4 linked regions of the Homo sapiens genome follow. The protein of the gene in region 1 interacts with the protein of each later gene in a biochemical or structural test. Each region holds a gene or a part of one and is shown on either strand. Other genes may lie near its edges.

What was found.
Region 2: the proteins of VDR (region 1) and KDM5A form a complex in vitro, tested with the Homo sapiens proteins (one study listed by BioGRID).
Region 3: the proteins of VDR (region 1) and FOXO3 form a complex in vitro, tested with the Homo sapiens proteins (one study listed by BioGRID).
Region 4: the proteins of VDR (region 1) and NCOA4 form a complex in vitro, tested with the Homo sapiens proteins (one study listed by BioGRID).

What each region holds. Positions count from the first base shown.
Region 1 is NC_000012.12:47,852,987-47,860,011, forward strand, and holds part of VDR (vitamin D3 receptor), read right to left. Parts: intron 4,703-7,025; coding exon 4,518-4,702; intron 4,264-4,517; coding exon 4,143-4,263; intron 2,816-4,142; coding exon 2,644-2,815; intron 1-2,643.
Region 2 is NC_000012.12:302,318-309,342, forward strand, and holds part of KDM5A (lysine-specific demethylase 5A), read right to left. Parts: intron 5,689-7,025; coding exon 5,137-5,688; intron 4,773-5,136; coding exon 4,629-4,772; intron 1-4,628. UniProt on the Homo sapiens protein: Histone demethylase that specifically demethylates 'Lys-4' of histone H3, thereby playing a central role in histone code. Does not demethylate histone H3 'Lys-9', H3 'Lys-27', H3 'Lys-36', H3 'Lys-79' or H4 'Lys-20'.
Region 3 is NC_000006.12:108,675,904-108,682,928, forward strand, and holds part of FOXO3 (forkhead box protein O3), read left to right. Parts: intron 1-3,923; coding exon of another isoform or gene 3,924-4,010; 3' UTR 4,011-7,025. UniProt on the Homo sapiens protein: Transcriptional activator that recognizes and binds to the DNA sequence 5'-[AG]TAAA[TC]A-3' and regulates different processes, such as apoptosis and autophagy.
Region 4 is NC_000010.11:46,027,620-46,035,298, forward strand, and holds the start of NCOA4 (nuclear receptor coactivator 4), read right to left. Parts: upstream 3,005-7,679; 5' UTR 2,907-3,004; intron 1-2,906. Other genes in the region: MSMB (beta-microseminoprotein isoform a precursor), read right to left, coding at 5,803-5,932. UniProt on the Homo sapiens protein: Cargo receptor for the autophagic turnover of the iron-binding ferritin complex, playing a central role in iron homeostasis. Acts as an adapter for delivery of ferritin to lysosomes and autophagic degradation of ferritin, a process named ferritinophagy.

The sequences.
Region 1 (7,025 bases):
GACAATAACATTGCTTGAGATTGATTTACTTCTCTTTCTCAACCATATTGTTTATGTATTTTATGGCAATATACCAAATGAACTTTGGGGAAGAATGAAGATACAAATATACATAAATATAGCCATTTCCCAACACATCTATTAAATGTGTCAATACTCTATTGTTTTAAGAATATTGGCCGGCAGTGGCTCATGCCTGTAATCCCAGCACTTTGGGAGGCCGAGACAGGCGGATCACGAGGTCAGGAGATCAAGACCATCCTGGCTAACACGGTGAAACCCTGTCTCTACTAAAAATACAAAAAAATTAGCCGGGCGTAGTGGCGGGCGCCTGTCATCCCAGCTACTCGGGAGACTGAGGCAGGAGAGTGGCGTGAACCCGGGAGGCGGAGCTTGCAGTGAGCCGAGATCATGCCACTGCACTCCAGCCTAGGCGACAGAGCGAGACTCTGCCTCAATTAAAAAAAAAAAAAAAAAGAATATTGGCCGGGCGTGGTGGTTCATGCCTGTAATCCCAGCACTTTGGGAAGCTGAGGCTGGCAGATCACCTGAGGTCAGTAGTTCAAGACCAGCCTGGCCAAGATGGTGAAACCCCAACTCTACTACTAAAAATACAAAACTAGCCAGGCGTGGTGGTGCGTGCCTGTAATTTCTGCTACTCAGGAGGCTGAGGCAGGAGAATTGCTTGAACCCAGGAGGCAGAGGTTGCAGTAAGTTGAGATCGCGTCATTGTACTCCGGCCTGGGCAACAAGAGGGAAACTCTGTCTCAAAAAAAATACAAAAAATTAGCCAGGCATGGTGGCACGCTCCTGTAGTTCCAGCTACTTGGGAGGCTGAAGCAGGAGAATTGCTTGAACCTGGAAGGCGGAGGTTGCAGTGAGCTGAGATCGCGCCATTGCACTCCAGCCTAGGTGAAAAGAGCGAAACCGTCTCAAAAAAGAAAAAAAAAATTAACACTGCATGAGTATTTAAATATAAGTATTATATACAGTACTAGTGTTAAAACAATGAAACATAGGAATAAATGAATGAAATTTATATGAATGAATTGATAAAGGAGGATCCCTTCTCCAGTAGAACTCCTTATACTTATATATTTTGGCAAAAATGTATCAGTATGGTTAGGAAATGGTCTTTATTTTTTTCTTTTTTGAGACAGGGTCTTGCTCTGTTGCCCAGGCTGGAGTGCAGTGGTGAAATCATGGATCACTGTAGCCTTGACCTCCTGGGCTCAAGTGATTCTCCTGCCTCAGCCTCCCTAGTAGGTGGGACTACAGGCATGTGCAACCACACCTGGCTAATTTATAATTTTTTTTTTTTGTAGAGAAGAGGTCTCACTATGTTGATCAGGCTGGTCTGGAACTCCTGGGCTGAAGCAATCCTCCTACCTCAGTCTCTCAAAGTGTTGGGATAGGCATGTGCCACTGTGCCCAGCCAGGAAATGGTCTTTAAATGTACATTTTGGTGAAGGATGCCAGGGTCATATATGCCAGTAAACCTATCTCTCTCCAGGATTCCTAGACTGTTTCACAAGTCTACATGGCCAAGCCCTTCTCTCTATCACTTCATTCTGCTCTCAGAGTTGGGGTGTGGAGGAATCATATCGTTGAATTTAAAGAGATAATATGAGGATTCCAGTCAAGCCAGCTGGAGTGAACACAGCAGTGAGCTGGGAGTTCTAGGCCTGGCTCTGACATGCTGGCTCCAACACCTGGAAGGGATCCTGGCTGGCCATTGGACCTCTCTGGGCTTCCACACCATCATCCAGAAAGTGCGGGGATGGACTAGCTCTCCAGTGCTGGCCTGCAGAGTAACGCAAGACAGGCTGCACTTTCTAAATACAGATTTCTGGGCCTACGCCAGAGATTCTGATTTCGCAGGTCTAGGGTAGGGTCTGAATCTCTATTTTAAAGAAGCAATGGAGGCTGGCTGCTGTGGCTCATGCCCGTAATCCCAGCACTTTGGGAGGCTGAGGTGGGTGGATCACTTGAGGTCAGGAGTTTGAGACAAGCCTGGCCAACATGGCGAAACTCCGTCTCTACTAAAAATAAAAAAATTAGGGCAGGGCGCGATGGCTCATGCCTGTAATCCCAGCACTTTGGGAGACCAAGGTGGTTGGATCACGAGGTCAGGTGATCGAGAGCAGCCTGGCCAACGTGGTGAAACCCCGTCTCTACTAAAATTATAAAAATTAGCCGGGCTTGGTGGCCCACACCTGTAATCCCAGCTACTTAGGAGGCTGAGGCAGGAGAATCACTTGAACCCGGGAGGCGGAGGTTATAGTGAGCCAAGATAGTGCCACTGCACTCCAGCCTGGGCATCAGAGCGAGAATCTGTCTGGAAAAAAAATAAAAATAAATAAATAAATAAATAAATAAATAAATTAGCCGGGCGTGGTGTCTGGTGCCTGTAATCCCAGCTACTTGGGAGGTTGAGGCAGGAGAATCGCTTGAACCTAGGAGGCGGAGGTTGCAGTGAGCCGAGATCGCGCCACTGCACTCCAGCCTGCGTGACAGAGCAAGATGCCGTTTAAAAAAATAAAAAATAAAAAAAAGAAGTGGTGGATGAGTGATCTCCAACCCTTCTTGTAGCTCAGTCTAGGACTCTGACTCTGTTCCCCAGAGATTGCAGAAGTTTCTTACCTGAATCCTGGTATCATCTTAGCAAAGCCAATGACCTTTTGGATGCTGTAACTGACCAGGTCAGCCAGGTGGGGCAGCATGGAGAGCTGGGACAGCTCTAGGGTCACAGAAGGGTCATCTGAATCTTCTTCACTCAGATCCAGATTGGAGAAGCTGGACGAGTCCATCATGTCTGGGAGAGATGAGGGAAGAGAAGGAGCTATTTAAGGATACTTGGACCAGGCCCCCTCCTGCCAGACCCTGCAAAAACCTGGTGTGCCCTGGCAGCAGAGCCAGCTGGGAATCCCACAGTGACTCCACAGGTCACCCTTCAGCCCCAGGCTTCCCTCTGGGACTCTCTCTGCCTCTTTCAGCAGCATAAGGCAGTAAAATCAAAGAGCCAGAGACACTCAGAGCAATGAGACTTCCTCAAGCAGACTGTGTGCTGTTCCTATGGATCTCAATCAAGAAAGAATTTGGGACCCATCAAGTCATGGAAAAAAATGTTCAACCTTGCTAATGGTCAAAGAACTGCAGTGTAGAACATCTATAATTTTCACCTACAAACCAGAAACAAAAATGTTTAAATATTGATGCCAGTATTTATAAAGATGCAGGAAATTAGGCAATGCCTATGAGGGCTGGGGTGCTAAAGGAGGTGCACATTACTGAAGGTACTCTAGAAAGCTATTTGACATTAGTCAAATAATTGTGTGTACTCTTTGACCAGTAGTCACACTTCCTGGAATTCATTGTAAGGGAAAATTTCCGATAAGTGTAAATATTTGGCTACAAGTATACTGTTTTCTTATTAAAATGCTGAGAAATAATCCAGATATCCAATGGTAGGGGATTAGGTACATTATTGTATTCCAGAATACTATGCAGCCCTTAAAAATTATATTCTGGATGCGTACTAACTGGTATGGAAAAACAATGCCATATAAAAAAAAGCAAGTCATCAGATTGTATACAGCACAATTTCTTTTCTAAATATACATATGTGTTTTTTTTAAAAAAAAAAAAAAAAAGAAAGGAAGGAAAGCATGATGCCTCCCAGACTCTCAGCTGAGCTGGAGGGGACAGGTCCTCCAGGGCCAGAGTGGTCCCCAGAGCTCAAGTGGAAGGTGGACCTCAATAGGACCAACACGTTCACCTTCCCACTCCAAATTTCACCTTCTGAAGGGCCCAGGATTAAAATATCACGTAAAGGAAGCAGGTCACCTCCACGGAGGGGGCCATGGGCTGAAGCCTGGCTTAGAGGAAACAGCATGGGCCCGGGAGGCTGATGCTACACAGCTGGAATCCCAGCTTGGCCTCTTCCCCAGTGTGGGCCCTTGGGTAAGTCACCCCTTTCTGTAACAGAGGGGCTGTTGTGAAGACGCTGCATAGCGCACAGTATTTATGTAAGTTTCCATTAGGGAGCCTTCCACCTCCTTCCATCCAGCAGCCCCAGGGCAGGTGCGGTGGACTCCTCGCCCCCGCTCCCTTACTCTATGGAGGACTGAAGTCCTGCTTACCTGAAGAGGTGATACAGTGATCTGAGCAGGAGGAGGAGGAGTCCCCAGAGAAGCTGGGAGTGTGTCTGGAGTTGGGCCTGGAAGGATGGCTCCCTCCACCATCATTCACACGAACTGGAGGCTGGAAGGGAAAGATGGGGTCTCAGACCCACATTTTGGGGTTGCCTTCCTACCTTGGCCCTGATCTCTGATAGGAATGGCTTTGAGGAAGGTCTACAGGAAGGCGAAGCCTCCCAGTGCCAGGGGCAGAGCAGCCTCCGTCCCTACCCCAGTTCTGTTCAGGATGTCCCCTGCCCTCTGTCCCTACTCCCTGGGCCCTGGCTCCACTAGTGCTTCTCCTCTGGACCGGCTCATCCTCCCAGCAGGCAGACATACCCGGAACTGGCAGAAGTCGGAGTAGGTGGGGTCGTAGGTCTTATGGTGGGCGTCCAGCAGTATGGCAATGATGCGCTGCTGCTCCTCAGACAGCTTGGGCCGCAGACTGTCCTTCAAGGCCTCCTCCTCCTTCCGCTTCAGGATCATCTCCCGCTTCCTCTGCACTTCCTCATCTGTCAGAATGACTGTGGGGTGGGAAGGGGAGTCAGGAGGGCTGGCCAGCAGCTCCTCCAGGAAACCTTCCTCCTGCGGTTGGGGGTAAAGGTCCAAGATAGGAGGGGCTTTAACACTCGGGGCTCCCTCGGGGGTCCTCCTGCCACGGAGACTCCCACTCCACTGTGTGAAGAAAAATTGGGTTTGCTATGGTGAAAAGGAAGGCACATGCAAGAAGAAGAAAAAGAGGATTTGAGAGGGGGGATGATCTGGGCTTTAGGGAGTCGGGGTTCTCAAGAACAAGTTGTGGGACCTTGGGCAAACTCTCTGGGCTTTTGTTCTTTTGTTTGTAAAATGAGAGATTTGGACCATGTAAGTTCTTCCAAGGTTCCTTTCTTGTACCTTCCTCCATAAAGTGTGTGTGTGTGTGTCTGTGTGTGTTGACATGCAGGTGGGGGAAGTAATAATACCTGCCTCAAAGGATCAACTGATTTGAGAACTGGATGCATGCCTGGCCCAGAGCAGATGCTCACTAAATGTTAGTTCTCTTCTCTTCCCTACCCTGATGTTCCATGATCCTGAAGAAGATATCAGGGTGAAGAGAGGATGCCAGAGCTCTCATAGCGCTGGAAGTGAGATGTGGAGAGGACTCCTCTATGTGGCTGTCTCCACATCCAGGTTTCCAGACATGGGACTGTGGAATATAGAAAGACTAGACCTCTTTGGTTCTCTGCAAAACCACCCCTCCTCCAGCATGTACAGCCTTGACATTTCTGTCCATGGAAGTTTTCAAGTCCTCTTGAAGGCCCCAAAGGGTGAGGCCTTGCAGCTCTAATCTTAGAAGTTCTCTCCAGCCACTAATCAGGGTGTGGGGCCATAGAGAGCCCCACCACCACCTGCAGGCTTCTGCCTGCCTCCCTGTGCTGGGGCAGCTGTGGGGGTGGAGGGGATGCTGGGAGCAAAGGTGCCTGGCACGGCGGCTGGGCAAACAGACCTCCTGGCTGTGGCTTGCTGAGTGCTGACGGCAGGAGTGGGCACCAGGGCCTTTGGCCTGTAGCTACTTGCTTGGTGCTGCTGCTGCCAGGGCATCTGCCCACAGAACTGGGGAGTTTCACAAGAGCAGAGAAAGGAACCAGAAGCCCAGGGTGGGTGAGTTCCAGGCTTTGAGAAAGGTCCATTGGCCCAGGCCCTCAGGTAGGGGGAGGACGAGAGAAGTTGCTGTGGGGTGAGGAAGAGCCTATGCTGGGAGGGAGTGGACAGCCAATGCCACAGGCATGGCAGGAAAGCGAGCGCTACTGCAAGAGATGGTGCTTCCCTCCACAGGGAGCCTGGGAGTAGACCACACCCAGGTGACTGACTCACCTGCCCAAACAGCTGCCAACTCTCCTCCCACAGTGGGTGTCTGCACAGACCCTACCAGGTCAGGCAGGGTGGGAGAGGAAGGGGCAGGGAGCATCCAGGGAAGGCAATGGGGGTAAGCCCTCGCTTGGGGAGCCCAAGATTAGGTGTCTTGTCTTTCCTGCTCACCTGGGGACCAGAGTTAGGGAGACCTGTTTCTGCCAGCCACACCATGGTGTCTACAGGCACGTAGCTCAGCCTGACTGGACTTTGCTAACTTTCCAGTGATTCTGTGATGCCATTCTCCTGCCCAGATACTTTTCTCGGCCCCTACTGATGACCACGTCCAAACTAAAGTTGGCCTCTTCCTAACTTTCAGACTTCATGTCTTAGTGCTTCTGGACACAGCCTCTGTTCTGGGCATGCTGGCATTGCTGCTGGCCTGGGAACATGACCTGCTCATGCTCGCCCCTGCATTTCCAGTTGTGCTAGGTGCCCGTCCAGCTGGGTTTTCTCTCCCCCAAACCTGTATGAGTTCTACCAGTTCTTCAGTGCCTACATCATAGCCATCTTTTTCCATGAAGCATTTCTTGATTGCCCTGATCTGCATCAAGCCTTGTTTTTTTCTGCTGAGCCTCATTTCCTATGCCTGCTACATATTTAGTCTTTCCCACACACATTGACACCCAATTATCTTCTGCTCTGTAAGACTCATGGTTAGCACAGTTTTCAATTCATTACCTATAGACGGAGCCCAAGAAGTTCAAGGTCTCTTTCTCTAGATTACAAGTTACTTAAGGGCAGGGTCCATGTCTTACAATTCTTTCTTTTCTCTCCCTTCCTTTCCCTTCCTTCCTTCCTTCCTTCCTTCTTTCCTTCCTTCCTTCCTTCCTTCCTTCCTTCCTTCCTTCCTTCCTTCCTTCTTTCTTTTTCTTTCTTTCTTTCTTTCTTTCTTTCTTTCTTTCTTTCTTTCTTTCTTTCTTTCTTTCACAGACTCTCGCTCTATTATCCAGGCTG
Region 2 (7,025 bases), about 48 Mb from region 1:
AACAGATATACAGACCAATAGAACAGAACAGAGGCCTCAGAAATAACACCATACATCTACAACCATCTGATCTTTGACAAACCTGACAAAAAGAAATGGGGAAAGGACTCCCTATTTAATAAATGGTGTTGGGAAAACTGGCTTAGCCATATGCAGAAAGCTGAAACTGGATCCCTTCCTTACACCTCACACAAAAATTAACTCAAGATGGATTAAAGACTTAAAGGTAAGACCTAAAACCACAAAAACCCTAGAAGAAAACCTAGGCAACACCATTCAGGACATGGGCATGGGCAAAGACTTCATGACTACAACAACAAAAGCAATGGCAAAAAAGGCAAAATAGACAAATGGGATCTAATTAAACTAAAGAGCTTCTGCACAGCAAAAGAAACTATCAGCAGAGTGAACAGGCAACCTACGGAATGGGAGAAAATTTTTGCCATCTATCCATCTGACAAAGGGCTAATATCCAGAATCTACAAAGAACTTAAACAAATTTACAAGAAAAAAACCACCCCATCAAAAAGTAGGCGAAGAATATGAACAGACACTTCTCAAAAGAAGACATTTATGCAGCCAACAAACATATGAAAAAATGCTCATCATCACTGTCGCTAGAGAATTGCAAATCAAAACCACAATGAGATACCATCTCACACCAGCTAAAATGGCAATCATTAAAAAGTCAGGAAACAACAGATGCTACAGAGGATGTGGAGAAACACGAATGCTTTTACACTGTTGGTGGGAGTGTCAATTAGTTCAACCATTGTGGAAGACTCTGGCAATTCCTCAAGAATCTAGAACTAGAATTACCATTTGACCCAGCAATCCCATTACTGGGTATATACCCAAAGGATTATAAATCATTCTACTATAGACACATGCACACATATGTTTACTGCAGTGCTGTTCACAACAGCAAAGACTTGGAACCAGCCCAAATGCCCACCAATGATAGAATAGATGAAGAAAATGCAGCACATATATACCATGGAATACTACGTAGCCATAAAAAAAGATGAGTTCGTGTCCTTTGCAGAGACATGGATGAAGCTGGAAACCATCATTCTCAGCAAACTAACACAAGAACAGGAAACCAAACACTGCATGTTCTCACTCATAAGTGGGAGTTGAACAACGAGAACATATGGACACAGGGAGGGGAACATCACACAGCAGGGCCTGTCCAGGGGTGCAGGCCTAGGGGAGGCATAGCATTAGGAGAAATACCTAATGTGGTTGATGGGTGCAGCAAACCACCATGGCACGTGTATACCTATGTAGCAAACCTGTACGTTCTGCACATGTACCCCAGAACTTAAAGTATAATACAAAAAAAATTATGGTTAAGTAATCTACCTTCTATAGTCTACAACCTATAATAACTCCTATACCAACAAGTTAAGGAGGGGAAGATAAATTTAGATGTGACAGCCTAAGGACACAAACCATTTAATCCTCTCTACAGGTTTTCAAACCTAGAATCTTACCAATTGCTCTTAATACAAGTATATGTCTGACTGACAATATATAGATTACAGTAAGTCTTCATGTAATGTCATTGGTAGGTTCTTAGAAACTGCCTTTAAGCAAAAGGAAGTATAGTAGCAGGTCTTTGAATAAAGTTGTTTTCATTTCATTATAACAGTGATGAGGGGGAAAAATAAGTTCAGCTTGCAGATCAGCTTGGTACTGCCCATTAATCTCATTGTTACACTTAAAGTCCTTGCAATGTTAAGTGAGCTCTGATTAGGTCTATGATTCTCCTTGAAATTAGTTTCCACAAGCTCACCTACATAGACACAATCCCAAAAGATGCAGGACAGACTTTGCTTCATTAAATATGTACCTCGTAAGTAATGATTTTCTGGATGGTAACTAAGATAAAATGACTGATTTTATTTTACTAAATAATTACCTACCCCTCCTCCTAAACCAAGAGGGGGCTCTTCCTCAAGCAAGAATACTAAGTTCAAAGTATTTTAAGTTATGAATTTATGGTCACAACAGAGGACATCACACAAAGGAAAAAACCACCAGGTCAAATGCAAATAAACCGGCAAATAAAATTTTCATTATACAATTATCGCTTGCTCTGTGGGAAAATGCTCAAGAGTATAGGCTTTTTTTTTTTTTTTTTTTTCATTCAAAGATATCAACATCAAAGTAAATTGGCAGGGGTATATAGCTCAGTGGTAGAGCATCTGACTGCAAAGTAAATTTGAACTTGAATTACCATAAGTCTTGCCACCATTCTTCTCAGCTGTCAAATACATTGCTAACACTAGAAAATCCATAATCTTATTTTTCTACCCTGCCAATACCCACTACCAAAGAGACAGTAAGCTAAGATTCTCATATAAATTCCTCCACAAAAAGACTACTCCATCCAACCATATGAAACTGCAGTTGTGATCCCTAGTCCTGAAAATCATCAATACTTGTGATGTTTTCATAGGTTACCAGTCTGCTTTCAAGCAAAGCCCATCATGTTAAGCAATTCTAGAAGAGTGGCTGATAGCTAATGTGCTAGAAAGCAACCACCAAAAATATCAAAGGCCTCTAACTAGGGTAAACGGGTGATTCCAGTATTCAAGGAAAAAGCTAATTATACTTGGCATGGGTTGCATTTCTTTTCAGCTGCTCTTAGTCACCCTATATACAACTTCGTAAACAAAGATAGTCATTAACTTCTGGATAACAACGTGCTTAAGAATGTACCGCTGTGTGTGGTATAAGCTAGTGTACCTTTCAGCAGACTGCCAATGAATTCTTCATAATGGGATTTAGCAGTACACTAAGATGATATTCAAGAACTGTACGCAACTGTAATGCCTCTTTTCTTAATAATGGCCCTCAATCAGCCCTTGAAAATCAGTGCAACAAAACTTGGCCATCTGTTCACAAAACTTTCAAAACTGAAAAATAATAATCTACCATATAATAAGATATTTTAATATAAAAAAAGATTATTTGAACAGTCTAATTCAAGTTTCAACTGTTTTCAAGTCTTTAAGTCACATAACTGAAAATTCCCATTTCTATCTTGAGAAAAAATATTTCCCAGCAGAGGAATCTACGAGCGTCTATGATGGATGGTTTTAATTTTATATCCTAGGAGTTTTAATGCTGATGAGATTAATGAGCAGTACCATGCTGATCTGCAAGCTGAAAAGACAAATAAAAGATAGTGAAGGGGTAGGAACAGAATCTCCCCTTGTTCTCTGGAAGCAGCCTTTTGTATCAGAGTAGGAATTCCCAGGTTACAAGAATAGATTCTAAACAAAGCAACTAAGAATCATATAAAACAAGTCAATGGATTGACTGTAATCTGGCAGGGTCTCTGCCTAATCACATTGTTATTACTAGGTTAAAAAGCAAAGGGCTTGCACCTGACAAAAAGGGCTAACGAAAAGCCAACTGGATCCAACACAAAACAAACTTGTCAAAACCTTCTCTTCACCACCAGTAACGTGTCATTACCAAAATAATCACATTGATGGTAAATAATTTGTTGTATCTGCAACTGGAACTCAGCAAATTCTAACCTGGGCCCAAGTATTATATTACCCATCTCCGAATGTGACATTCTATCTAGCACCATCCAGACGAGAAAGCAGAGCAAAAGACTCTAGCAATGGAAGTGTTTTTTTTTTTTTTTTTTTTTTGAGACAAGGTCTTGTGCTGCCCAGGCTGGAGGGCAGTGGTGCAATCATGGCTCACTGCAGCCTCGACCTCCTAGGCTCAAAGCAATCCTCCCACTTCAGCCTCCCAAGTAGCTGGGACTACAGGTGTGTGCTACCACACCCAACTAATTTTTGTATTTTTTGTAGAGATGGGGGTCTCAATATGTTGCACAGGCTGGTCTCAAACTCCTGGGCTCAAGTGATCCTTCCACCTCAGTCTCCCCTAAATTGTTAGGTTTACAGGCATGAGCCACCACACCAAGCCTAGAATGGAATTCTTAAAACTTAACTGTATACAGACTTTCACAACTCAAAGAAAAAAATCTGAAAAACTGAAATTGGCCAAGAAAGCTTTACATATTGTTTTTCTAGTTCCTCTAAGCCATAAGGGATTATAAGATGAGTAAAACAAATACAGATTTTTTAATTCTATTTTTTAAAAATTGTTTCAGGCCTGGCGTGGTGGCTCAGGCCTGTTATCCCAGCACTTTGGGAGGCCGAGGCAGGCAGGTCACTTCAGGTCAGGAGTTCAAGACCAGCCTGGCCAACATGACGAAACCCCATCTCTACTAAAAACACAAAAATTAGCCAGGCAGAGTGGCATGCACCTGTAATTCCAGCAACTTGGGAGGCTGAGGCACAAGAATTGCTTGAACCCAGAAGGCAGAGGTTGCACTGAACAGAGATCGCGCCATTGCATTCCAGCCTGGGTGACAGAGCGAGACTCCATCTCCAAAAAAAAAAAAAAAAATTGTTTCAGCAACCTGTAATGTTTTGAGTTTTGAAAAAATGCTACGACTAAAAACTCAGAACAGATAAATGATTAGTTTTCTCTTTCACTTTCAGGCCTCAAACATCACTGTTCAATAGCTTTTTTTTTTTTTAAACAAACCCAATGATCAGGTATGTACCCACACAGCTTGTCCATGTAACTACCTTCATGTCGTAGCCATATGTCTCTCGAATGTCTTCATCAGAGTCTGTTTCTTCATCATCATAGTCCATTGTTTGTCGAGGAGAAGATGACACACTGCTCACCACCCGGTTAAAAGCAGACTGCTGGAAACTAGGTAAGTGTCCCTAAACAACAAATAATTCCAAGATGAACAGCAAGACATGCTAAACAGACAGGGTAATTAATGTGTGCTTAAGATCACCAAAATGTAATGAATAAGCAAAGTGGCTAACAGAGTTCTTCAACAGTTAGTAGAAATCAAATTATTTGATTATGATGCCAAAGTCCACCTGAATGATATTACCAAGAATATTTCACTAAGTACGTATCCAAAAAAAGTGCTATAGTGTATGTTGAAGGAGAATGCAATGGATAATTGCTGACAAGTTACTGTTATTTTCCTAATCAATTGGTAAGACAGACTCAATTTACTATTTATACACTGACATATCCCATGAAATAGAAAAAGAATGTAAATCCTAAACTTGCCTGTAAGTCTGGATTGGCAGCTGCTTTTTGGAGTTCTGCACTGATGATCTTTTCAGTTTTTTCTCGAGCCGCCTGTTCCACCATACGCTGGCTCAACACAGATAGTTTGGCCAGGGCAGAGGATAGTTCATCTGTGGCTAGAGCCTGCCGCGCTCTATCTTGCCAACTCATAGCACGTTCTGTCAAACACTGCAGGGCCTCTCCTTCAGGCAACCGTACGGGCAACTTCTGAAGGGATACCAGGAGTGACAGAATAGTCTCTAGCCTGGGCCTTCGAGACCGCATACAAAGAGGGCAAAGGAATTTTACTTCTTTAGCTTGCCAGCTGGATCCTTTTTTTTGGGAACTTGATTTAGGAAGAGGAACACAGCTGTTATGGAACCAGTCTTTGCAGAGCTCACACTGTAGCATAAACCCACTGGCTGTCTTGCGGCAAATGCAAAATTTTACTTCTTCTATGCGGTCCACCATTGTCATCTTGGCTAGGTTGGCTGCTCTGAGAGAATGCATGGCTTCAATCTCTTTTTGCTCCCGTTCTTTGAAAACTGCCACCTGTACAAGACAAACATTTAATTGAAAAGAGTCACTGCAATATACCCCCCAAAATACCAAATCCTCAAGGCTGTGGGATCTTTCTCCCAAGTTATCAGTTATAAACAGTTTCCTAAAATGTGGGGCCCCTGGCGGTTTCCATGCAAACATTCCTCAAGTGTGAAATGGGCAAAGTGCTATCATATTTGATCATGTACATCAGTACAGTACTTTGGCCTCTTCTGTAGGGTGCGGTACAAAGATGGCATGCCTTGAAATCAAGCAACCTGGGTACAAAGCCTGGCTCTTGTACTTTTAGACTGTTAATATGGGGTACAAGTTTCAGAACGTCCGTTTTCTGAAAAATGAGAATACTACCAACCGTATTTTGCTGTTTTACGGATTAAATAAGATAACATATGAAAGTGCCTAACCTGGTACCTTGCACAAGGTAAACACTCTTAAAGTATTAGTTTCCTATCACCTCGTAATTCATTCCCTGGGGCAAGTCCTACACAAATTAATTTACTTCTCTCTGGAAAGCCTCTTCATGTATAAGTAGAATAACAAAACTTGACGATCAGTTGTAACAACAGAGTTTTATGAAACTCATTTTAACAAAGTAAATAAAGGCAAACAAATTTAATTATCAATACTGTCAGTGCATTTTCTTGTTAAACTACTGGCAGCTTTGAAACAATTTTGAAATAATTTCCAGTCCTACTTGTCTAGCAAGATTGACTTGTTAGGCAGGCTCTCTAATCAGAGAATATTTTCACTGGCTTCAAAACAGAATCATTTGTAGGCAGAAAGAGCTATATCACATGCAATTCCCTACTTTTATTGTCCAGATTCGTATTTATTTTCCATTTCCTCAGGCTCCTAGTAATCTTAACACATTCCTCCTATCCTCCAAAAAAGCATAATTCTCATCAACTACAAATATTTTAACACTCATTAAGAGATGGAAATCTGTAGCCTGGTATAATTCCTTTGAAAAACACAATAGTAATAAGAGTCATAAAATGCTTATATTAAATTCTAACCCAGTAATTACATTCCTAAGAGTCAAGTCTAGGAAATTTAAAAGAAGGAAAAGGTTATAAAAGAAGTTCATTTTATTACTTACAATAAGAAACTTAGTAACAGGCAAAATGCTCAAAATTAGAAAACTACAGCAGGTCCTCAAATAACATCTTTACGTTCAGTGTAGTTTCATTATAACACTGATGAGAAAAAAATCAATTCCTGGCCAATGCCACTGTCACTCACTAATTTACCAAAAACTGGATAATTATTTCGTTTTTATTACTCTTTCTTAAATGTAGGTTTAGCTCGAATTTTCTCAGTGTTTAATA
Region 3 (7,025 bases), on another chromosome or scaffold:
TATGTTTTATTCCCAGATTAAAGTTGATTGGGGTTGTTATGTTTTGTGTAGTTTTTGGAGGCATTTCCCTTTCTTAGAGTATCATGTGATTTATGGTGATAATTAGGCAGAAACTTGTCTTCCCTACAGATGCCAAGATTATAGAGGGACTTGCTCTCACCAGAGACCAGATGACAGCATCCGTAGATATTTTTAGAATGGACCTCATCATTTATTTGGTCTCCCCATTTCATTTTCTTTGTATCAGCAATTGATTTCAAACTTGTTTATTGGGCAGGGAGGGGAGAGAGGGCGTCTTCCCTTATTAATGAAAGTCACTGATGGGACAGAACAGCATCTTTGTATTTATTGTTAATTGGCATATTGCCTAGTACTTGCAGAGTAAACTACAATTCCATCAGCTGTAGCTTCATTTTCTTTTCAAAAGTTTTGCTTAATCTGATGTGTTTTCTTACAGCATTTTAAAATTTTATTTATTTATTTTGAGACCGGGTTATGAGACTAGTTTTTGTATTTTTGGTAGGGACGGGGTTTTGCCATGTTGCCCAGGGTGGTCTCCAACTCCTGGTCTCAAGGGACCGCCCCCCTCAGCCTCCCAAAGTGCTGAGACTACAGGCATGAGCCGCCATGCCTGGCCCCTTAATCCGATGTGTTTTTAAACTAGAAGAGCATCGACACATACACATAAATCTCACGGTTAACTAAATAACCGTATAACTAAAATGTCATACTTTAAACTATTTAAGAATGACATGAGCTTTCTTAAAACCCATGAAACTTGTACCCAAGCTAAGTATCATTGACTTTCCCAGCTCAGTAGCTGGGTTTCATCACTTAATATGCTCCCTCTACTCTTTCTGTCCTTGATTGAATCAGATAAGCATGTACAAACATTGAGCCACAGGAGAGCCATTAAAAATCTAAGACAGATGAGCTGCTGCTTTCCTTTTGATTATTTTTATTACCCCAGTTTTCATTGTAAATGGTGATTCTGGTGTTCCTCTGAGAAGGTTAATTGTATTTCTGTTCAACATTTATCTTCTATATTTTCAGTGTTTTACAATCTGTTTTCCTTCTGTCACAGAGGAAACCAAAGGCCTTTCTGTTCTCTGGAGTGGGAGTTTCTGTATTAAATTTGTCCTCTGCAAGAGTTGCCTCTATACCTGGGCCAAATCCTCTACCAATTCAGCCTATAAGCACCAAGGTGGTTTCCTGAGCAGGCCTCCCTGGGAGGGCATTGCCTGGGGGACCTCAGCGGAAGCTGTAGAACATAGCTTCACAGGTGACCCCAACCCCAATCTGCAGAAAGGGAAAGTGGTGATTCACACATCTCGTTTTTAATAATGGAGTTCTCTGAAGATTGGGGCCTTTTGATGAAGGAATGGATATTAAGCCTGGGGACTGTGGTTGGTTAGTGCTTTAGACTGTCCCACATGGGCCTCCTACTCCTGGCTTTGGGGTGATGGCCTGTTCTGCTCAAAATTGTGCTCTGTTAGGGGCTCATGGGTGTCCTCTGTCCTCTTTCCTGCTGTGTTGGCCCAGCCCACATTGGAGCAAGCCACACTCCCTGTCTCTGTACTTGGGGAATGAAGTGTGTCACCTTCCCATTATGCACTGGCTTCTGTGGCTGCATAATTAATACCCAAGGGAACTGGAGAGAGATCTGAATTAGGTAGTACTTTACAGCTTCTCCCTCGGCGCTTACAGTAAGTCAGGATGGGGACTTGGGGATGGGAGTCCCCTGATGACTGATCACATAGTGATGTTGGATGGTGGTTTATTAAGTGTTATTGTGAGGGGAAAAAACCAAATCCTCTTCCAGAGGACTGTGCCTGTGAAACGCTATCTAATCATTCATACTTTGCAGGGCAAGGTAGAGTAGTTAGAATAGCACTGACTTTAGCAAGCTACGGTCTTCACAGATGCTGAGATCTAGTATTTACTTCAGCTTTTACTCCCTCTAGAATCAACAAGCCATTATTTTATAGTCCAAGGTAATATTATCTAGTAGCTTTACAAAGCAAAGAATGCCCCAAAAAACCATCAGCCAGGGAAACTAAAACCTAGGGATAGACAGGAAGAAGAAAGAGGCTTCTTTTTATACTTTATTGTCCCTACCTCCAGTAAAACAACCTAAATTCTTCAATTTGGAGCTTTAACAAGGATAAGTAAATATGACCATGGGCATGTAACATTGTAAATACTAAGTCCTGCTGTGTTTGCAAACATTGAGAGTGAAAGGTAAGATTGCCAGCAAGTGCAGAGTCACAGAAGAGATTGAAGTTACAGTACACTCATGAGAATTCCTGATGACCCTACGGTACAACCTCTAAAGGTGGGAGAAGCAGATGTATATAATGTGATTTTGTGTGTGAGTTTTTTGATGCTTTTTTCATTACTTATTTACCTTGTCTGGAGAGAAAAGCACGAGTTCATGTTGTTTCACTACCACTTTTCTATCCATTTCTTGGCCTAGAGCCGTTTCTTTACTACCATAACTGCCAACACTATCTCCATAAACAAAGAATCTTATGTCTGGAGGTCTGTCATGTCACGTCCTTTTGCTATTAAGACAGCTCTATGAATATACTTTTTTTTTTTTTTTTAATCCCTTAACTTTTCTGGGCCCAGTGGTCACATGACATCTGATAAGACTTGTATAAATTCAGATGCTCTAAGAGCACCTTTTTTGTGCCTTTCCATTGAAGACAAAATAATAATTGGAGGCAGAATAATAATAATGTTGTTGATTGTTAATGGGGTGTTTTATGGGGGATTTCTTGTCCATATATGTGTTATGTAATTTTTTTTCTCCAAATTTGTAATACAAAAATCAAATTCCTAAGCCAGGTGCATTGGCGTGCCTGTAGTCCTAGCTACTCAGGAGGCTGAGACGGAAGGATCTCTTGAGCCCAGGAGTTCAAGTCCAGCCTGGGCAACATAGCAAGACCCCATTTCTTAAATTCTTTTTTTTTTTTTTTTTTTTTTGAGACGGAGTCTCGCTGTCGCTCAGGCTGGAGTGCAGTGGTGCGATCTTGGCTCACTGCAAGCTCTGCCTCTCAGGTTCACGCCATTCTCCTGCCTCAGCCTCCCGAGTAGCTGGGACTACAGGTGCCCGCCACCGCGCCCGGCTAATTTTTTGTATTTTTAGTAGAGACGGGGTTTCACCATGTTAGCCAGGATGGTCTCGATCTCCTGACCTCGTGATCTGCCCTCCTCAGCCTTCGAAAGTGCTGGGATTACAGGCGTGAGCCACTGCGCCCGGCCCATTTCTTAAATTCTTAAGATGGCCCGCTTAGTAATTACTTACTCTTTTTATGGTGGGGAATAGGGGAGTCAAGATTACCCACACCCAGCACTGCAGACTTATTAAGGCCTTTATAGAAAGTGGCCATTTCATCTCCACTGGTGTTGGGGTATTCGTGGAAAAGGGTGGTAAGCAATTCAGTTAGTCCACATAGCCAGTAGGGAAGAACCAGAAAAGTATAACTCATCTACTTAGGATGAGCGGCTCTCCTTGTTTTAGCATGGAAAGTCCCATGTCCTAGGAAATCCCTCAGTCCGGAAGTCTAGAACAGAATCTTATCTGCACCTTGAACATCTAACTAAAAAGGACCCACCAAAACACCCCTAATATGGCTTTCTTTATCTCCCAAAGTGAATGATCCCATTCCCTTTGGGCTTTTCAACTTCAGAGCATTTTGTAATAAGGACAACATGAGAAATAAGGTAAGTAATCTTTGTGCTTTGTCCTTAGGATTTCAGACCTTTGAAACTGGTGTAGCAGAGCAGCTTTGCTGTGCTAGCCCTGGGCTCTGAGGTGGGTGAGGGAGATGGAAGGCCTTGACAGGTGGCCCTCAGGTGCCCACTATTGCTGTTGCAGTGCCCTTAATGATCTCTGGTTTTCTTTTCTCCTCCTTTAGACCCTCAAACTGACACAAGACCTACAGAGAAAACCCTTTGCCAAATCTGCTCTCAGCAAGTGGACAGTGATACCGTTTACAGCTTAACACCTTTGTGAATCCCACGCCATTTTCCTAACCCAGCAGAGACTGTTAATGGCCCCTTACCCTGGGTGAAGCACTTACCCTTGGAACAGAACTCTAAAAAGTATGCAAAATCTTCCTTGTACAGGGTGGTGAGCCGCCTGCCAGTGGAGGACAGCACCCCTCAGCACCACCCACCCTCATTCAGAGCACACCGTGAGCCCCCGTCGGCCATTCTGTGGTGTTTTAATATTGCGATGGTTTATGGGACGTTTTAAGTGTTGTTCTTGTGTTTGTTTTCCTTTGACTTTCTGAGTTTTTCACATGCATTAACTTGCGGTATTTTTCTGTTAAAATGTTAACCGTCCTTCCCCTAGCAAATTTAAAAACAGAAAGAAAATGTTGTACCAGTTACCATTCCGGGTTCGAGCATCACAAGCTTTTGAGCGCATGGAACTCCATAAACTAACAAATTACATAAACTAAAGGGGGATTTTCTTTCTTCTTTTGTTTGGTAGAAAATTATCCTTTTCTAAAAACTGAACAATGGCACAATTGTTTGCTATGTGCACCCGTCCAGGACAGAACCGTGCATAGGCAAAAGGAGTGGAGCACAGCGTCCGGCCCAGTGTGTTTCCGGTTCTGAGTCAGGGTGATCTGTGGACGGGACCCCAGCACCAAGTCTACGGGTGCCAGATCAGTAGGGCCTGTGATTTCCTGTCAGTGTCCTCAGCTAATGTGAACAGTGTTGGTCTGCTGGTTAGAAACTAGAATATTGATATTTTCAGGAAAGAAATCAGCTCAGCTCTCCACTCATTGCCAAATGTCACTAAAGGGTTTAGTTTTAAGGAGAAAGAAAAGGAAAAAAAAAAAAAACAAAAAAGTCCTGTTTTGCTTTGCAGAACAAATGAACTTACAGGTGAGCATTAAGCTTGCAGTGAGAAATGTGCGAAGAGTAAAAACCCAAGTCAATGCTGAGGCAGTTCTAACTTCACTGTTTTCCTAAATACACATCCTTGATTATTTTCAGCCTTGCTATATAATCTGATCTGCTAGAAGTGTATGAGTGAGAGGCAATAGCATACAAACTGATTTTTTAAATATAAGCTTAGGTTGTAATTGTACAAGTGACTCAATGGAAGTACAAAATAGGGCAGTTTTAACTTTTTTTTCTGCTTCTATGGATTTCATTTTGTTGTGTTTTCAAAAAGTTATGGTGCTGTATAGGTGCTTTCTGTTTAACCTGGAAAGTGTGATTATATTCGTTACCTTCTTTGGTAGACGGAATAGTTGGGACCACCTTTGGTACATAAGAAATTGGTATAACGATGCTCTGATTAGCACAGTATATGCATACTTCTCCAAAGTGATATATGAAGACTCTTTTCTTTGCATAAAAAGCATTAGGCATATAAATGTATAAATATATTTTATCATGTACAGTACAAAAATGGAACCTTATGCATGGGCCTTAGGAATACAGGCTAGTATTTCAGCACAGACTTCCCTGCTTGAGTTCTTGCTGATGCTTGCACCGTGACAGTGGGCACCAACACAGACGTGCCACCCAACCCCCTGCACACACCACCGGCCACCAGGGGCCCCCTTGTGCGCCTTGGCTTTATAACTCCTCTGGGGGTGATATTGGTGGTGATCACAGCTCCTAGCATAATGAGAGTTCCATTTGGTATTGTCACACGTCTCCTGCCTCGCTTGGGTTGCCATGTTTGAGCGATGGCCCTGTTGATTTCACCCTGCCTTTTACTGAATCTGTAAATTGTTGTGCAATTGTGGTTATAGTAGACTGTAGCACATTGCCTTTTCTAAACTGCTACATGTTTATAATCTTCATTTTTAAAGTATGTGTAATTTTTTTAAGTATGTATTCTATTCATATGGTCTGCTTGTCAGTGAGCCAGACTTGCTTACTATATTCCTTTATAATAATGCTAGCCACTTCCTGGATTCTTTAGTAATGTGCTGTATGCAAGAACTTTCCAGTAGCAGTGAAGGAGGGTTGCCTCTCCAAGCTTCCTAAGGGATGCTGCCCTGTGTGGGGATGCATTGCAGAGGCACTAGTAGCATGGGGGCTAGAGTGGGGAGCGAGATGTAAAAGGGTGGGGGGATAGGAGAATTCCAGAGTGCTTCCAGCATTAGGGTCCTGAGAACTTCTGAGTTCAGAGAAACATGCAAAGTGACTAACAAAATAGCTACTTACCTTTGCAGTTTTACAGACCCTGGGAGCTGCTTTGGGAGTGAGAAAGGCAACCCTCCAATGTGTTTCAACTTTAAAATGTTGAATTCTTTTCAGACATGGTATCTCATTTATTCTCCTTTTCTAGCGTTTGTTGAATTTCAGGCAGAATGTCTTACAGAATGTCCTAGAACCAGATTATCATTTAATCTGAAACAGCTGAGGAAGGGACAGAGAAGGTACAAGGGCAAGGCAGCACAAAACAGATCAGGAGAATGAAGAGGGAATGCTTTGGTTTTTTGTTTTGTTTTGTTTTTTCTTTTTCAAGTAACTAAAACAGCATCTACATGTAGAGTGTTGTGGAGAGCTGAGACCAGGGTAAAGTCAAGTGCAGCATCAGTACTGCGAGACCCACCAGCCCCTGGAGAGGGTCAGCCGAGAATCTGGTAGTGAAGCCTGTCTAGGGTCCCGGCACCCTCACCCTCAGCCACCTGCAGAGAGGCCAGGGCCCCAGAGACTAGCCTGGTTCTGAAGTGGGCAGGGGTGCTGCCAGAGCCCTCTGCCCCTTATGTTGAGACCCTGCTTTCAGGACAGGCCAGCCGTTGGCCACCATGTCACATTCTGAGTGAGTGTCACAGGTCCCTAACAATAATTTTCTGATCTGGAGCATATCAGCAGAATGCTTAGCCTCAAGGGGCCTGGCAGCTGTAATGTTTGATTTATGATGAGAACTATCCGAGGCCACCCTTGGCCTCTAAATAAGCTGCTCTAGGGAGCCGCCTACTTTTTGATGAGAAATTAGAAGAGTACCTAATGTTGAAAACATGACATGCGCTCTTGGGATC
Region 4 (7,679 bases), on another chromosome or scaffold:
CTTCTACAGTTCTTCCATGAAACTGAACTTAACCCAATGCATACATACTGGTTGGGTGGTCTGTTATCGACACTTTAGGCTTGCCTTTGCAACCTAACCAGTATGTGAACAGAGGCAGTGAATTCACTGCTGATTTCAGTACTGCTTGAGAAAGTGCTCTCTGAACCAGCAGCACATTCCACTGTATATCCTAAAGAGTGACAAATCTTCATTTTCTGAGGCTAGGTATACTTTCTTGGAAAGATCTGATGACTAATATATGTAAAGCACTTAAAATAGTGCCTGATGCACATTAAGAGCTATAGAAGTATTACCTATTTTTATTACTTTTAGTCAAAGAACAGGATATAACAAAGAAAGACATAAAGTTCATCAATTTCATTACCATCATCTCTCTCCAGGACTCTTGCAGAAACCTCATGACTGCTACCTACTCTTCCCCTCTACCCTTACTCTTCTCCTCCTGCTGCTCCTTTAGCTTAACAAGGATGCTTCTGCCTCAGGGCCCTTGCGCTTTCCTCCAGGTATCCTCGAGCCCAGGCCTTCACTTCCTTCAGGTGTCTGCTCAGAGGTCATCTTCTCATTGAGGCCATTCCTCACCATCTTTTATTTTTAAAAGTCTTGCCTCCAATCCCCCTTAATATGCTTTATTACTCTCCATAGTACTAACCACAGTCTGGCACGTAGCAACCATTTATTTTCTGATCTCCCTTCAGAAAACATACTAGAAGGTAAGTTCCACATGGCGGGGACTTTGTCTTTTTGTTCACTGTTGTATAGTAGGTGTTCAACAATTAATTACTGAGTAAATGAATTCAGTAAGTATTTACATCTAGTCTACTATGTGCCGAGCCTTTTTTTAAAAAACTCACTATCTCAATTAGCCCTCATTAAAGTGGCTATTATCATCACCATTAATTAAAAAAAAAAAAAAAGCAGACTTGACAAGGTTAAATATATTACCTACAGTCACAAACTCCCAAGTAGAAGAGCCAAGATTTAATCCCAGATCTGAGTCCAAAGTCCCTAACCACACCTGGTATGTTGAAGGAATCATTAAGTATTAAGGTATTATGTATTCATCCAACAACTATTTATTGAGTACCTAAACTGACACTACTGTGATAGTCCCTGAGAACACAATGGTGAGCTTGCCACCTAGAGGAGAACTCGTGTCATAGATTCACCAACCAAGCAGAAAATACTAATTCTTTGAAATAAGAGACTGAGTTCAAAGTCCATCAGCAGCAGCAATGACTGGCTCTGAATGCTAACACTATGTGAGGGAAAGTATTATAAAACACTAACTTAGGGACTCTCAACCGGGGGAGGGATATGTGTCAGGATATCCTATGGAGTTTTATGAAACCCCTACACCGGATCCTGAGATTCTGGCACAGCTATACTGATTTAATAAAAAAAAAAAAAAGGGGGGGGTGAGGGGTACTATGTAGTTCTAAAATATCTTCTCTCCCTTTGAGAAGGACATCTTCCTCCCCTTCCATAGCTCAACATGTTTTTCCATTTCCGAAATGCCTGTTTGCACAAAGGTAATAATGTAATTGTAGAGATTTATTTAGATAAAAACTACCACAAAACTTTCAAAGAGTAGGATTTTCCTTAGAGACCCAAGGACAAAGGCTCCCTGGAAGGCAGGAAAGGAGAAAATGAAAGGAACGTTATTGTGCTGGACTTTACATACATAATCTCATTTACTTATCTGAACAAATCTGCAAGCTAGCAAATCTTCAAATGAGAAAACCAAGTAAATTGCCTAAGCCACTGCATCCTTAGGGTAAGTCTTTCTCAAACGGTCTCAAGTACTTTAAAGTTTGGAAATGTCACACTAGGATCTCGGTATAAAAATGGGCCAACTATGACTTCCTGTGCCATCCTCATTCCAATAAGTAACTCAAGAGTCTCTATAAACTTAGTTCCAAATTACCAAGTGCGTGGTGGAAAGCTAAGTCCATCCAAAAGGCAATTACTGTGGTGAACCCGACCCTGATTAGAAAGTGACACAAAAAGGCACAGTTAAAAGTAAAAAAGCTCTGCCTTTGGGGTCAGATAAATTCAGCACTCTGACTTCTGTCATTCTACTTCTGCCATTCTTGATGGCATCATTCCATGTTAAATCCCGTGCCACGTAAGATTATGATTATTGTTTTCCCCACAACAAGAATTTAGTTCCATGAGAATTAGGTGTCCATTTTTTTCATTGCTATCCTCAACATCCTGAACATACAGGCACCAAATAAATGATTGCTGGTGGAATGAACCAATGAATGAGCAAGCCTTACTCTTCTCAGCTGTAAAACAGAGATAATCAAGCTACTTTTCGGGATTATTGGGAGAATTAAATGTGACAGTATGTGTTTGGCACACAGAGGGCCAAAAAAACCCAATATCTTCTTTGCATTTCCACCTGACAAGCTAGAAATGGATTATGTTCTGTGCCCGTCCGGCAAAACAGACCTCGCCTCGCCCCACATCCAAGCAAGAGGCGAGAGAAACAGGAAACTTGGAGCTGTCACACCTAAAGAGAGGGGAAGGCCGGCGGGGAGCAGGAGGTGTCCGAGCCGGGTGTGAGGAGGGTCGGGGAGGAAAGGACAGGCCCACGGCCGGGCACGAGGAGGGTCGGGGAGGAAAAGACAAGCCCGGGCCCGGCGTGTGGCGGGAAGGCGAGAACGTAGGCCCGGGCCCGGCGTGTGGCCGGAAGGGGAGAAGACAGGCCCGGGCCCGGCGGGCAGGCAGGAAGAGGTGCCCGGGCCTGGCGTGTGGAGGGGAGGGAAGGGAAGGAGAAGGCAGACCGGTCCCGGTGTCGGTCGGGTCGGGAAGGGGCGGACAAGCCCGGGCCCAGCGGGCCAGCGGTCATCGAGCCTCCACCCGGCCCACAGCGTTCTTACCAGGTCCGAGTGCCTCTCCAGGCGATCCGAGGAGACCTTGGGTGGACTGAGACACGGCCCCACACTAACCTACGGCCCAAAGGCAGAGTTCTCGCGACAACACAATCTTCCTCCCACACCTCTCGCCATACGTCTGACAGTCTCGCGAGATCTCCGCTCGGGTCAGCCAGAAGCCCTTGACTGCCCTCTAGGAGGCGCAGAGCGCAGGCGCACACTCCCTCCCCGCCCTTGCAGTGTCCTTTAGTCCTTCGTGAATAAATCGAAATTAAATGAAGCAAATGCTTTTTTGAAGGCAAATTTGGTGCCAAGGACCATCCTAAGTGATTCAGATGGCCTCACAAGGTAGATATTATTTAGTTTGAACATTCAGATGCAAAAATGAATATCGTAAGACACAAAAGGCCATATGTTGTATGATTCCACCTTTGCCACATTTGTTTTTCTAAGGATTGAGTTAATAGGCCGGGAGCAGTGGCTCACGCCTGTAATCCCAGCACGTTGGGGGCCGAGGCGGGCGAATCACGAGGTCGGAAGATGGAGAGCATCCTGGCTAACACGGTGAAACTCCTTCTCTACTAAAAATACAAAAAAATTAGCCAGGCGTGGTGGCTCGCGCGTATAGCCTCAGCTATTCGGGAGGCTGAGGCAGAACTGCCTGAACCTGGGAGGCAGAGGTTGCAGTGAGCCGAGATCGCTCCACTGCACTCCAGCCCGGGCGACAGAGCAAGACTCCGTCTCAAAAAAAAAAAAAAAAAAAATTGAGTAAATAAATAAATGGCAGAACCCAGATTCTTTTTTTCTTTTCTTTTTTCTTTGAGACAGGGTCTGACTCTGTCGCTCAGGCGCAGTGGCGCAATCTCGGCTTGCTGTAACCTCTGCCTCCTGTGTTCAAGCGATTCTCCTGCCTCAACCTGCTGAGTAGCTGGGATTACAGACATGCGCCATGATGCCCGGTTTTTAAATTTTTTTGTAGAGACAGGGTCTTGCTGTGTTACCCAGACTGGTCTCAAAGTCCTGGGCACAAGCGATCCTCCCACCTGATCTAGGATTACAAGCATGAGCCACCACGTCCAGCCTACAGCCCAGATTATAACCCACATTATTTACTTGTGACTAGATGTTAAATAGCACTTCTTTCTGTCTCAGTTTTGACAGAGGTCCTCCATACTCAGTTGCCAACTGCTTCCCCACATTCCGCAGCAAAGGAGGTGATCATAGCAGGGTTTTATGGATCTCATCCAAGAGTGACTCTGCTACAAGGGGCAAGGCAACCTCATTAGAAAACAATAGGAGACATAGATTACGATGCAGAAGCTAAGATAACAGTCATAGGCTGTGAGTGGAAGGGGAGCTGTGGAGAGAGAAGCCCACAAAAGTCCCATGAGGAAGTCAGCCTAGAACATGACCTCAGGCAGAAGGAGCCCTTAACTCTCCTGTCCCCCATTCCCTCTCAATTCAGATGCAGCCCCTGGAATGAGACTTTGTGTAACTCAAAATGTAACTCAGACCACTTTTTTAAATTATCTGAAGGTGAACAAGAAAGCTAAGGGACCTGTCTAGATTGCTCAACTGGCCCACATAGCATGTTTAAACAGATAGGGGACAGGGGAAAATAAAGCTCTTTATCAGTTGCCCACTGATTGTTCAACAGATGACTGTTTGCTCATTTCTGATCTGTCACGTACACACAGCTGAGTCCAAGCCCCAGGAGAACAGGGTTCTCTCCTGAAATCTCTCTGGTTCACTGCTGTATCCCCAGGTCTAGAGCACTGCCTGGCCCAGGTGCTCAGTACAGACCTGTTGAGTGAACAGATGTTCTTTAACACAGAAACAGTTAAAAGAGAATCAATGTTGTCGTTGTCTTAAGCCACTAAGTTTTCGGTGGTCTGTGTGTAGCAAGAGGTAGCTGATGCTGGGGCCTTGCACCCAGGCCACTCTCCATCTGCAAGGCAGAGCCCCTGGCCTTTAATTCCCCTCGGGCTGCATGTGGTCTTGGGGGCACTTTCTTCAGGCTTGTTCTAAGCTGTTTTACAGGCTTGTTCTAAGCTGTTTCTTGTTCTAAGCTGCTTTGACCTCAAGCAAACACAGAGGAATGTGGGGGACACATCATAGAAGACACTTCCTGATGAAGAGGAAGGAGGGATAAACAGGAACACCGTAAAGAAAAGAAGGGATCTAATTCCAGCTTGAAGACACACATTTTTTTCATCGTTCACCAGACAGCAGGACACGGGCAGCAGAGTGCAGACATCAGAAACAGTAAGAGTGGCAGTGGTCCCCTGAGTAAGGGATGCACAATGACCTATTATAGAGTTTAGGAAAAATAGAACTTTTATTCATATGTATTTTGTTTTGTTTTGTTTTGTTTGGGTTTGGGTTTGTTTGTTTGTTTGCTTGTTTTTTGAGACGGAGTCTCACTCTGTCACCCAGGCTGGAGTGCACTGATGTGATCTTGGCTCACTGCAACCTCCGCCTCCCGGGTTCAAGTGATTCTCCTGCCTCAGCCTCCCGAGTAGCTGGGACTACAGGTGCCTGCCACCACGCTAATTTTGTATTTCAGTGGAGACGGGGTTTCACTATGTTGGCCAGGCTGTTCTCGATCCCCTGACCTCAAATGATCCGCCTGCCTTGGCCTCCCAAAGTGCTGGGATTATAGGCATGAGCCACTGTGCCCGGCCATTCATATGTAGTTTTGTCTCCCTTTTTAAATGTTTTGTATTCTTTATAATGTGTATTAAATCAATGCATACATAAATTATAAATTAAAAGGACACACATATTCAAGTGTTTGCTCAAAAATCTTTTTACTGATAGGCATGGCTACACAATCATTGACTATTAGAGGCCAGAGGAGAATGAGGCCTGGCCTGGGAGCCCTGTGCCTACTAGAAGCACATTAGATTATCCATTCACTGACAGAACAGGTCTTTTTTGGGTCCTTCTTCTCCACCACGATATACTTGCAGTCCTCCTTCTTGAAGATTCTTTGGCAGTTGTCTTTGTCATAACCCACAGGTGTAGAAACACTGTCATTGAGACAAAACTGGGGCCTGTTAGAAGAGAAAGGACCCCGAGCACCCCCTCCCCAGTGCCAGCTCTGTTCAGGAAGTCACCCACACTCCAACTTAAGGGCACCCTTTGGCTGGCAGCCCCAGAGTGTGACCTCCAGGAACCTGGACCAGTCTGTACCATAGAGTCACACAGCTCACCCCTACATTCCATCCTGCAGGCACAGAAGGTCATCAGTAGGTGCTGACAGGCCCAGGGGCAAGTCTGGCTACTCTAGAAAGTGGCAGCTTGTTCCATGCTGGCTCCTCCCACCCTCCCTGTTCAGGAAGTGGCCAGCATATTGTTGCTAGAATGTGGAAAGGAAACAAATCCCAGCCCTGACTTGGAGGCCTGTTGGCAAAGGAGCTCTCTCAACCAACCAGAGCAATGAGTCACTCCAGGCCAGTGTCATGGAGCCCAGGGAGAAGCTGATGAAAGTCAGAGACCACCTCTAATTGAGCTGCAGTACATACAAATATTTTGAAGAGTTCTGATGAGATGAGATGATACTAATGCTAGAATATTTATGTATTATTACTATTATTACTTTAATTTTTTGAGATGAATTTCACTCTGTCACCCAGGATGGAGTGCAGTGGCACGATCTCAGCTCACTTCAGCCTCCGTCTCCCAGGTTTAAGCGATTCTCCTGCCTCAGCCTCTTGAGTAGCTGGGATTACAGGAGCACACCACTACACCCAGCTAATTTTTATATTTTTAGTAGAGATGGCGGGTCGGCGCGGGGGAGGTCTCACCATGTTGGCCAGGCAGGTCTCGAACTCCTGACCTCAAATGATCCACCCACCTTGTCCTCCCAAAGTGCTGGGATTACAGGCGTGAGACACCATGCCCAGCCCAGTGCTAGAATATTAAGTGGAAAAATCAGCCCACAAAACTGTGATATAAAATTTGATATCCACTATGTAAAAGAAAAAACATATAGAAAAGAGACATAAAGAAATGATGATAGGGCCGGGCGCTGTGTCTCACGCCTGTAATCCCAGCACCTTGGGAGGCCGAGGCGGGCGGATCACGAGGTCAGGAGATCGAGACCATCCTGGCTAAACCGGTGAAACCCCGTCTCCACTAAAAATACAAAAAATTAGCCGGGCGTGGTTGCAGGCGCCTGTAGTCCCAGCTACTCAGGAGGCTGAGACAGGAGAATGGCGTGAACCCAGGAGGCGGAGCTTGCAGTGAGCAGAGATCACACCACTGCACTCCATCCTGGGCGACAGAGCAAGATTCCATCTCAAAAAAAAAAAAAAGAAAATAAATGATGATAGAAGCCCAGGCATGGTGGCACATGCCTGTAATCCCAGCTACTTGGGGCTGAGGTGAGACAACAGCTTGATCCCAGGAGTTTGAGACCAGCTTGGGCAACATAGTGAGACCCTGTCTTAATTTTTTTAATACAAATAAATAAATAAATAAAAATAGAATGTTAATAGTTATTACCTTTACACAGTTGGGATTATGAGTAGGTATTTCTTCTTTTTTCTCTTATGCTTCCCAATGATTCTATAATTCATATGTTTACTTAGAAAATTGGGAAATATCATTTAAAACCTTTCATGTTTTTCATGTTTAAAGGTGATTGCTGGCTGGTAGGAATGTAAAATGGTGCAGCTGCTGTGGAAAACAGCTTGGCAGCTCCTCAATAAGTTAAACAAAAAATTACCATATGACCCAGAAAGCTACTCCTGGGTATATATCCCAAAAGAATTG